3 linked regions of the Homo sapiens genome follow. The protein of the gene in region 3 purifies or fractionates together with the protein of the main gene of each other region. This does not show direct contact. Each region holds a gene or a part of one and is shown on either strand. Other genes may lie near its edges.

Region 1 (3,753 bases), on a different chromosome or scaffold from region 3:
TTATGCCAAAAATGTCCTTTATTGCTTTTATTTTTTAATCTAGCATCCAGTCAAAGACTATTCATTGCATTCAGTTGTCATGATAAGTTTTATTTTTAATGATCATATTAATGTAGGATTTATATATATAAAAAAAACTAGTCCAAATGACAGAAGATACTTAACAAATGTGGTTTTGCCTTTTTCTTTTTTTTTTTTTTTTTTTTTTTTTTGAGACAGGGTCTCAGTCGCCTGGGCTGGAGTGCAGTAGGGTGAACACAGCTCACTATAGCCTTGACCTCCTTGGCTTAAGCAATCCTCCCACCACGAACGGCTAATTTTTTTACATTTTGTAGAGACGAGGTCTCACTGTGTTGTCCACGCTGGTCTCGAACTCCTGGGCTCAAGTAGTCCTCCTGCCTTGGACTCCCAAGTGCTGGAATTACAGTCATGAGCCCCACCGCACTCAGCCTTTGACTGTTTTTAATTTTATTTTTGAGGCAGGGTCTCACTCTGTTGCCCAGGCTGGAGTACAGTGGTGCAGTCATAGCTCATTGCAACCTTGAACTTCAGGCTCAAGAGATCCTTTTGCCTTACTCAGCCTCCCAAGTAGCTGGGACTACAGGCATGTGCCACCATGCCCAGCTAATTTTCATTTTAATTTTTTGTAGAGACGGAGTTTTGCTATGATGCCCGGGCTGATCTTGAACTCCTGGCTTCAAGTGATCCTTCTGCCTTGGCCTCCCAAAGTGCTAGCATTATAGGCATGAGTCACTGTGCCTGGCCTTGAATATTTTTACATTGCGTTGTCACAAGTGAGCTGTGTCATTTTGGTATATTTTAATTAAAAGGCAAGGTTTCTACTTTGATATTATTTAAATCCACACCCTTGTATCTTACATCAAAATTTAAGAATCAGTCAGCTTTAAATTATTTGCTTTTATTCTTCTCTAGGAGCTGCTGTTTTGAGGATTCCTATTCTGTATGGGGAAGTTGAAAAGCTCGAAGAAAGTGCTGTGACTGTTATGTTTGATAAAGTGCAGTTCAGCAACAAGTCAGCAAACATGGATCACTGGCAGCAGAGGTTCCCCACACATGTCAAAGATGTGGCCACTGTGTGCCGGCAGCTAGCAGAGAAGAGAATGCTGGTAAGAAGGATTCCTGAGTCCTGTCTTAGCGAAGGTCCGCTTTGTCTTTTCCATGCTTGAACTTTCACAGCTGTACTTGGAGTGTTACTGAGTGAAAGCCAAAAGTGCTTTTTTAAAACTAGGAGACCAAACAAAAGTAGTTTACATATACACTGTATTCATGAAGAATAAAAATATTATGCTCTTCTGTTTGAATTTATTTCTTATGTACTATAGATCCCATCATTTCTTTTATTGCAAAGTGTTAGGAAACTTCAAAATAATCATCTAAGGTCTTTTAAGAAGATACTCTTTGGGGGCTGGGCGTGATGGCTCACACCTGTAATCCCAGCACATTTGAAAAAGTTGGTATTAAATATAATATCCATACAAAGAAAGATGAGACTGATTTAGTTTAGAATATTAATAGGATGACCACAGTTTTTTAATATATGAGAATTATATTTTGTAATATATAACATGACAATATTTAAGAAAGTTTAGCTCAACTTGAAAAATGGTTCTATTAAGTTTTTGTTGTAGCTTGGGATAATTAAAAATACTCATTAAATTGTACTGTTTTCATAAAAATTTGTAATGCTTTTTTATATTCCCACTAATTAAGTAAAATTGGAGCCTTTTTTTGATTTTAAAAATTCTTAAGGTTTAAATTCTAGAAATTGCTCTTTTAAGTGTTTTGCTAAGAGTATTAGTAGGAATTTGATTTTAGATATCTTGTGGAGACCTTTCCAGAAAAAGAGGGTTGCCTTTTAGTTCCTGGACCTTATTTTAAGTAAGCTTTTTGGTCAAACCTATTCTACTCAGCTCAAAAAGTTGAAACTATTGAATTTATTGTGTCATCGTTCTTAGGATCCATCAATTAAGGGAACCTTTCACTGGTCTGGCAATGAACAGATGACTAAGTATGAAATGGCATGTGCAATTGCAGATGCCTTCAACCTCCCCAGCAGTCACTTAAGACCTGTAAGTACATGGCTGTAAAAACCTTTAGATCCATTGCTATGGTATATATTATTGCTGTGTTGGGTAACTTCATTTCTCAGTACTAATCAAAGTGAACTTTGCTTGTATGCTGGCTGTTCATAGTGCTACTTTTCTCTAAATTATCATCTGTAGAGAAGATCATGAGTATTGAAGTTTGTAGAAAATGTATTATTGTCTTGATCATGACAGGCATTTGGTTTATTTTTCCAGGGATGATCAAATCAGATTTCTTACACTAAGAGCAAAAATAAGTAGCAAATATAAAACCTCAAAATGGCCAGGCACAATGGCTCATGCCTGTAATCCCAACACTTTGGGAGGCTGACGCAGGAGGATCCCTTGAGCCCAGGAATTTGAGACTAGCCTGGGCAATGGAGGGAGATCTCATCTCTGTTTAAAAATATATACATATTTAAAAAAAGGTCAGGGGGAACAAAGCCCTCAAAATATAGCCTTTCACTTACTTTTGATTTTTTTGTGTTTATCTTTCTTTAAAGATTACTGACAGCCCTGTCCTAGGAGCACAACGTCCGAGAAATGCTCAGCTTGACTGCTCCAAATTGGAGACCTTGGGCATTGGCCAACGAACACCATTTCGAATTGGAATCAAAGAATCACTTTGGCCTTTCCTCATTGACAAGAGATGGAGACAAACGGTCTTTCATTAGTTTATTTGTGTTGGGTTCTTTTTTTTTTTTAAATGAAAAGTATAGTATGTGGCACTTTTTAAAGAACAAAGGAAATAGTTTTGTATGAGTACTTTAATTGTGACTCTTAGGATCTTTCAGGTAAATGATGCTCTTGCACTAGTGAAATTGTCTAAAGAAACTAAAGGGCAGTCATGCCCTGTTTGCAGTAATTTTTCTTTTTATCATTTTGTTTGTCCTGGCTAAACTTGGAGTTTGAGTATAGTAAATTATGATCCTTAAATATTTGAGAGTCAGGATGAAGCAGATCTGCTGTAGACTTTTCAGATGAAATTGTTCATTCTCGTAACCTCCATATTTTCAGGATTTTTGAAGCTGTTGACCTTTTCATGTTGATTATTTTAAATTGTGTGAAATAGTATAAAAATCATTGGTGTTCATTATTTGCTTTGCCTGAGCTCAGATCAAAATGTTTGAAGAAAGGAACTTTATTTTTGCAAGTTACGTACAGTTTTTATGCTTGAGATATTTCAACATGTTATGTATATTGGAACTTCTACAGCTTGATGCCTCCTGCTTTTATAGCAGTTTATGGGGAGCACTTGAAAGAGCGTGTGTACATGTATTTTTTTTCTAGGCAAACATTGAATGCAAACGTGTATTTTTTTAATATAAATATATAACTGTCCTTTTCATCCCATGTTGCCGCTAAGTGATATTTCATATGTGTGGTTATACTCATAATAATGGGCCTTGTAAGTCTTTTCACCATTCATGAATAATAATAAATATGTACTGCTGGCATGTAATGCTTAGTTTTCTTGTATTTACTTCTTTTTTTAAATGTAAGGACCAAACTTCTAAACTAATTGTTCTTTTGTTGCTTTAATTTTTAAAAATTACATTCTTCTGATGTAACATGTGATACATACAAAAGAATATAGTTTAATATGTATTGAAATAAAACACAATAAAATTAACACTTGATCCAGAAT
Region 2 (3,653 bases), on a different chromosome or scaffold from region 3:
ACCTCTGCCTCCCAGGTGCAAGAGACTCTCCTGCCTCAGCCTCCCAAGTAGCTGGGATTACAGGTGCCTGCCACCATGCCCGGCTAATTTTGTATTTTAGCAGACACAGGGTTTCACCATGTTGGTCAGGCTGGTCTCAAACTCCTGACCTCAGGTGATCCACCCGCCTCAGCCTCCCAGAGTGCTGGGATTACAGGCATGAGCCACTGCGCCCGGCCCTCATATACATTTTTTATGAAATACCTTTTAAACATGCTCAAAGTGTGAATTAGGAAAGTGAAAGAAATAAAAGGTATCCAAATAAAAAATACGTAAAATTGTCTCTTTTTGCAGATGACATGATCTTATATATAGAAAATCCTAAAGACTCCACCAGAAAACCATTAGAATAAATTCAGCAAAATTACAAGATACAAAATCAACATACAAAAATCAATTGTGCTTCTATACACTAACAATGAACTATCCAAAAAAAAATTAAGAAAACAATTCTATTTAGAATAGAATGAAAAAGAATAAACTACTTAGGAATAAATTTAACAAGGAGAGGAACGATCAGTATGCTGAAAACTATAAAGCAGTGATTAAAAAAACTGAAGATTACACAAATAAATGGAAAGATATCCCATGTTCATAAATTGAGAGAATTAATATTGTTAAAAAGCCCATACCACCCAAAGTGTTCTGCAGATTCAATGCAATTTCTATCAAAACTCCAATGGCATTTTTCACAAAAATAGAAAAAAAAATTGTAAAATTTGGATGGAACAGCAAAAGACCCCAAGTAGCTACAGCAATTTTGCAAGAACAAACCTGGAAGCAGCCTACTTTGTAATTTCAAATTATATTACAAAGCTACAGTCATCACAACAGTGTTGTATCAGCATAGAAACACATACATAGACCAATGGAAAACAATAGAAAGCCCAGAAATAAACCCACACATGTCTGGCCAACTAATCTTTGACCAAGACCAAACAATGGGAAAGCACAGTCTTGTCAATAAATGGTGGTGGGAAAACTGGATATCCATGTGCAAAAAAATGAAATTGGATCTTTATCTTACAACACACACAAAAGTCAACTAAAAGCTGATTAAAGACTTAAATGTTAGCCCTGAAACACCAAGACTCCTAGAAAAAAACATAGGAGAAAAGCTCCATGACATTAGTCTTGGCAATGATTTTTTATGTGACACCAAGAAGACCAGCAATAAAAGCAAAAATAAGTAAGTGGGACTACATGCAACTAAAATGTTTCTATGTAACAAAGAAACAAGCAACAAAATGAAAAGGCAACCTACAGAATGGGAGAAAATATTTGCAGACCATCTGTCTGACAAGATGTTATTATCCAAAATATAAAAGGAACTCATACAACTCAACAACAAAAAAACAAATAACCCAATTAAAAAATGGGCAAGGGCCGGGCACAGTGGCTCATGTCTATAATCCCAGCACTTTGGGAGGCCAAGGAGGGCAGATCACCTGAGGTCAGGAGTTCAAAATCAGCCTGGCCAACAGGGCAAGGTGGCGGGTGCCTGTAGTCCCAGCTACTTGGGAGGCTGAGGCAGGAGAATCACTTGAACCCAGGAGGCAGAGTTTGCAGTGAGCCAAGATCACGCCACTGCACTCCAGCCTGAGTGACAAAGTGAGACTCTGTCTCAAAAGAAAAAAAAAGGATAAGGACCTTTTATATATCAAAACATTATGTGGTACACCTTAAATATATGCATTTCTTTTTTCTTCTGACACGCAGTTTTGCTCTTGTCATCCAGGCTGGAGTGTGATGGTGCGATCTCACCTCACCACAACCTCTGCCTCCCGGATTCAAGCAATTCTCCTGCCTCAGCCTCCTGAGTAGCTGGGATTACAGGCATGTGCCACCACGCCCAGCTAATTTTGTATTTTTAGTAGAGATGGGGTTTCTTCATGTTGGTCAGACTGGTCTCGAACCCCCAACCTCAGGTGATCCACGTGCCTCAGCCTCCCAAAGTGTTGGAATTACAGGCGTAAGCCACCACACCCAGCCAATATATGCAATTTTTATGTGTCAATAAAGGTGGAGAGAAATACATAAATAAATCAATGTGCTCAAAGTGTGCTTTATTTGGCAAAGAACTTCAGGTGTATTTAATTTTACTGTGTTTTATCACCATAAAAAAATAACATAAAAAGTACTCATCTGTTGACAGAAGTACACTGGGACAAGTCTGTCAATGGAAGCAGGGAAATACCAAAGATTCCACACCAGGTAGTAGGCACCATCCTAAGGACCTAGAACGCTACAGGTCATTTTGGCTTTAAAGACTTAGTCTTGCCGAAACTTTAAATTGTCAAATGACTGGCAACCATCAGGAAAATATTTCTTCCACACAGTTTATTCAGAAAAGCCTGGAATGCAGCACACACATAGAGTCAGTGGACACCTCTCCAGTGTAACCTGTTTCAAAGATCCCTCTGACTAAGTTATAATCCTGGGCTTATTTCCATCCACCACTCAACATATTAGCAAGTGTCTCTCCCACGGCCCAGCCACCAGGCTAACAATTAAAACCATTGTTTCAACTGACCTAACAAGACACTTGACAGGTTAAATCTACTAAATGCGCTCCAAGCTAAAAAAGATCCATTTTTGGAGTATTTATTTTGGACTCTGAGCTACTCTCCCCTTTCATTAGCCTGACAGAGATTTACTGTGCTCAAATAAGCTATCCTGAGTGTTACTAGCACTAGCCATATTAAGATTGATAAAACATCATGAGCAAGTAAGAGTTTACAAACATCGTGAGCCACCATGCCTGGCCTAGGTTGTATATACAATTCTTACATGAGGTTACATATACAGATTTACAAGTCTAAGGCAATTAATCATTCATTTTGAGCAACTAACACTTAAGCACTATTATCAAAGGAACTTACAACATACAGTGAAAATAATTTTAGCAGGATTTGATATCAACTAACAGGCATATGTAGCAACTGACCAAATTCAAAGACTCAGTTGGAGCTATCAACCAATCTGAAAGATCAGTTCCAGAAAACATGCAAATGGCTTGCTAAGCAGAATAATTTTTAAAATATACTCCTGTTGGCATAGTGCTTGCATCTTATAATTTCCCTAGGACTTGTTGAGCACCAATTATTCACCAGGCTCACTTCTTGGAAGTGTCACACCTTTAATTCATTTTTTGATCTCCCAAAAATTGTTCACAGTAGGTTTCAACATATGCTTGATGAATTTAATCTGATTACTTGTAGAGCTCTACACATTTTAATTCAGTGACTTTCTAAGGTCACTGCTCTAGCTCAAATCAGAGCGGACATTCTGTGAACTGAACCCTACTATAAGCCAGGCACCATGCAGCAGTGTGATGATGGATGGGGATGTGGTAACCCAAGGCAGATGTGGTAAGAGGGACAGGCAACAGGAAGAAAAGATAAAACTATTACCAAAACAATCAACGGGACTGTGCAGCTCACTGGATATTGTAAACAGAACCAGAGAAGATTTTAACTTGTATTTCCAAACATCTGGTGGAAATTTAGTTTTTAACTTAGTTTCTAGCAATATTTCCTAACTTGTTTTTTAAGTGCTTAGGATCTGTGCCTCCCACGAATCCCCAATGAACATTATTCACTAAACTATAGCTC
Region 3 (3,653 bases):
CAAAAGCTCAAAGCTAAAATGCATCATCAGTCCTAGTCGGCAGTTCCTTAAGAATGGACTGGCGGCGTGGTTGAGCTGATATGGAAAAGCTGCACCTTCCTGCAGAAGATCAACTGACCTGCTATCCCACCCCAAATTTCAGCCTGAGGTATATTTCAGTGAAGGCAGGTAGCTGTGCTTCTCAGAGCAGAGAAGCAGTTTTAAGAGCAAAAAGGTAGAGGAAATCTAGAAAAGAACCGTCTTGATACAGATTTATCCCATGGTGTGAAGGGAGGGCAAAGAACCCAGTGGCACTTCGCTTATCCAGCAATTTCTGTCACTGTGGTGACCAACTTCTGCCCGTTCCATAGGGTCTTGAACTGCTCAGGAACTGGGAATTCATTCTGCAAATAAAGAAGAGACAGCAGGTTTAAATCTGAGCTAAAGAACAGCTGGGGCTAAATCTCACACATTTCTCCCAATGCTTGCTTCCACTTAACCCCAGGAGCACGGTACAATGTAGCAAGAGACAAACCCACAGAGCCATGCTATGTTCTAGTGTTCAGCGATCTTGGACAGACTATTAAGTCTATGGGGTGTAAATAACAGTACATATGGCTTTATAGCACCAGCCTGACAAGGTGCCATGGCTCATCCCCATTATTTTTTGCTACCTTGAGCTCCACTTAGGCAGAAAGCACCTACCTTTGGGGCTCCACTACATGGGACTACCTCATTTCTGTGTACTTTTGGTGTGCATTATTGGGTTTTTACCTGCTCAGTGCAGAATGTTCATAAAATAGCTTTCTTCAATGCCAGAAATCTTCAGTCCCTTCTGTTTTTAACATCATACTAAAGAGATCAAGAAACTTACAAAGTCACCGCCTTCTGTAGGAATGAGGACATTCATCTCGGAAGATTTGGCACTGACTATTTCACAATCCAGGGAATTCTTGCTCAGGTAAGCATGGCAGCCATCTGTTTTGTTGATGGATATGGTTGGCACTTTACCCATTACCTGCAGAGTAAACAAAGAGAACTGAGTCCCAGTGGTTGGGAAGGACAACAGTAAGTCGCAGGAAAAGGTTTCCTGTTTCACGTGACTCAGCAACTACATGAAAAGCTCACAGATGCGCAAGACACTGGATACTCGGGTGGGTTGGGATGGGTCCTGAAAAGAACTTGCTTGAAGAGCCAACCCTTCTTCTGCCACGTCCAAAGCAGCTCAGCTTACAGACTTTGTAGAATCAGATTCCCACCAAAGCAACATCTGTGGGTCTACCATGTCTCTTTGAATTAATTCCTCAGGGACAAAAAGAAGGAGCCAAAATATCGAGTTACCTGAACTTTGACATCCTTACTGTTGATTATCTCCACAATGCCCACCACGTCATCGAATACCAGGCCAAGTTTCTTACAGTTATCTAGGAGAAGAAAGGGAGTGTGTCAACGTGTAACTTTAAAGGAAAGTAATATACATTTAGGAATCTTTAAGGATAGGGTAGGTAAAATGGTATTAGCCTTCTCGGGCTCTGGGACGGGGCTTGCGTGGGACAGCGACAAAGACTCACCTACTGTAATGGAGTTAATTTTGCCCTTGATTTGCAATGTCGTGTTGACACACTTGTATATGTAAGCCACCTGTTTCAGCTCTGTGTCCTCAATCACCAGGTTGGAAACATTTTCCTGATTTTCCTGTTAGAGAGAGATCCCAGGATTCTCATCACAAAGCACACACCGAACAAAAAATAACCAGGCTATCCCAAACTTTTTGTTCTTGCAATTGAAGCCAGAACTCTGCCCTCATCTAGCTAAGCTCCATTTAACCTCCTGTTCCTACTCCTTTTCCCCGGGAGGCGGAGGTTGCGGTAAGCCGAAATCGCGCCACTGCACTCCAGCCTGGGCGACAAAGTGAAACTCCATCTCAAAAAAATAAAATAATAAAAATACCTGCCCCTGTCTAGGTATTTTTAACTCACCACTCTCCACTTCTTGCCCTCCAGTTCAAGTACAGCTGGCTCCTTCTTTGTGGCTCGTTTGGGGGATGGGCTGGTTTGGGGTTTAGGTGCAGAGAATGGTTTGGGGCCACTGCGTACTGGACCACTCTGAGCCTTCAGGGCAGGGTTCTTGTGAGTCTTCATGTCATCAGATACATGTTTCAGGGCTGTAAGAACAACAGCTACCTTGTTCCTGTCCTTCATACCAGACCTTTGAGCTGCTATCGTCATGTTAAACATCCTTAACAGAAAATTCAAAGCCAAAACCAGAGCCTTTGAGATGTTCTCTTGCAAGCAGTTTTGGAAAAGTACTTTTATCATTTCTCTTCTCCCCAAGATTAAATTATATGGTTCCATTAACAACAACATGGAATGTGTGTATATTGTGGGTGAGGATAAGGATATGTAAATCCTTATCCTCTATGTCTAGAAAGACATATCAAATGTATGTGCACAAATATATAATTTTTAAAGCAATAAAGAAAAATGAGTGGTAGTAAAGAAAATTTGGTAAAAGGAAAAGAAAAAAATACCCTCACTCCCCACAGCTAACCCTACTTCCCCCACCTCCTCAGTCAGTGTTGGCATTTGCAACTCTACAATATTGTTTTCTACATATATTTGGTTTTGTTGGTTATAATCATACAGATTGTTAACAAATTTAGTTCAACTATTGACACTTAAAAACTTTCTCATGTTAACCTGTAGTTTAATATCTTTCTAGGCCAGGCGCTGTGGCTCATGCCTGTAATCCCACACTCTGGGAGGCCAAGGCAGGCGGATCACCTGAAGTTAGGAGTTCAAAACCAGCCTGGCTACCATGGTGTATTTTTAGTCTCTACTAAAAGTACAAAAAAATTAGCCGGGTGTGGTGGCAGGTGCTGTAGTCCCAGCTATTTAGGAGGCTGAGGCAGGAGAACTGCTTGAACCTGGGAGGCAGAGATTGCAGTGAGCCAAGATCACGCCACTGCACTCCAGCCTGAGCAACAAAGTGAGACTCCCATCTCAAAAAAAATAAAATAAAATAAAAAATAAAAGTAAAAATATATTTCTTTTATGTTTTAAGGGAAAAATAATTCATCATCTCCCACAGCAGGCTGACACACGCCTCGCTTTGAACATGGCCAGATCTATGTTAACTGTATAACAAATACTGAATGGCCTTTTTATCTCCACCATTCCTTGTGGTTGTAATTTACATACTAGATTTTTTTTTTCTTAAACATTACATGGTTCACTGTAGAAAAACATGTAATGGTGGCACAACATTTCATCAAGAGGCCGGGCGTGGTGGCTCACACCTGTAATCCCAGCACTTTGGGAGGCCGAGGTGGGCAGATCACCTGAGGTCAGGAGTTTGAGACCAGGCTGACCAACATGGAGAAACCCCATCTCTACTAAAAATACAAAAAAAAAAAATTAGCCAGGCATGGTGACGCATGGCTGTAATCCCAGGTACTCGGGAGGCTGAGGCAGGAGAATTGCTTGAACCTGGGAGGTGGAGGTTGCGGTGAGCCGAGATCGCGCCATTGCACTCCAGGCTGGGAAACGAGCAAAACTCCGTCTCAAAAAAAATAAAAAAATAAAAAACATTTCATCAAGAGGACATGTGGTAGTTAGCCATTTCTCTTACAGTTGGATTTAGGTTGTTACACCATTTTTAGCTACTATGATCAT

Evidence for each region.
Region 1: the proteins of CAP1 (region 3) and MAT2B fractionate together in Homo sapiens (co-fractionation; one large-scale study listed by BioGRID). This does not show direct contact.
Region 2: the proteins of CAP1 (region 3) and ERO1A fractionate together in Homo sapiens (co-fractionation; one large-scale study listed by BioGRID). This does not show direct contact.

What each region holds. Positions count from the first base shown.
Region 1 is NC_000005.10:163,515,585-163,519,337, forward strand, and holds part of MAT2B (methionine adenosyltransferase 2 subunit beta), read left to right. Parts: intron 1-933; coding exon 934-1,127; intron 1,128-1,976; coding exon 1,977-2,090; intron 2,091-2,608; coding exon 2,609-2,779; 3' UTR 2,780-3,753.
Region 2 is NC_000014.9:52,689,036-52,692,688, forward strand, and holds part of ERO1A (ERO1-like protein alpha isoform 2 precursor), read right to left. Parts: intron 1-3,653. UniProt on the Homo sapiens protein: Oxidoreductase involved in disulfide bond formation in the endoplasmic reticulum. Efficiently reoxidizes P4HB/PDI, the enzyme catalyzing protein disulfide formation, in order to allow P4HB to sustain additional rounds of disulfide formation.
Region 3 is NC_000001.11:40,068,180-40,071,832, reverse strand, and holds part of CAP1 (adenylyl cyclase-associated protein 1), read right to left. Parts: intron 2,144-3,653; coding exon 1,959-2,143; intron 1,675-1,958; coding exon 1,551-1,674; intron 1,404-1,550; coding exon 1,321-1,403; intron 998-1,320; coding exon 854-997; intron 384-853; coding exon 300-383; 3' UTR 1-299. UniProt on the Homo sapiens protein: Directly regulates filament dynamics and has been implicated in a number of complex developmental and morphological processes, including mRNA localization and the establishment of cell polarity.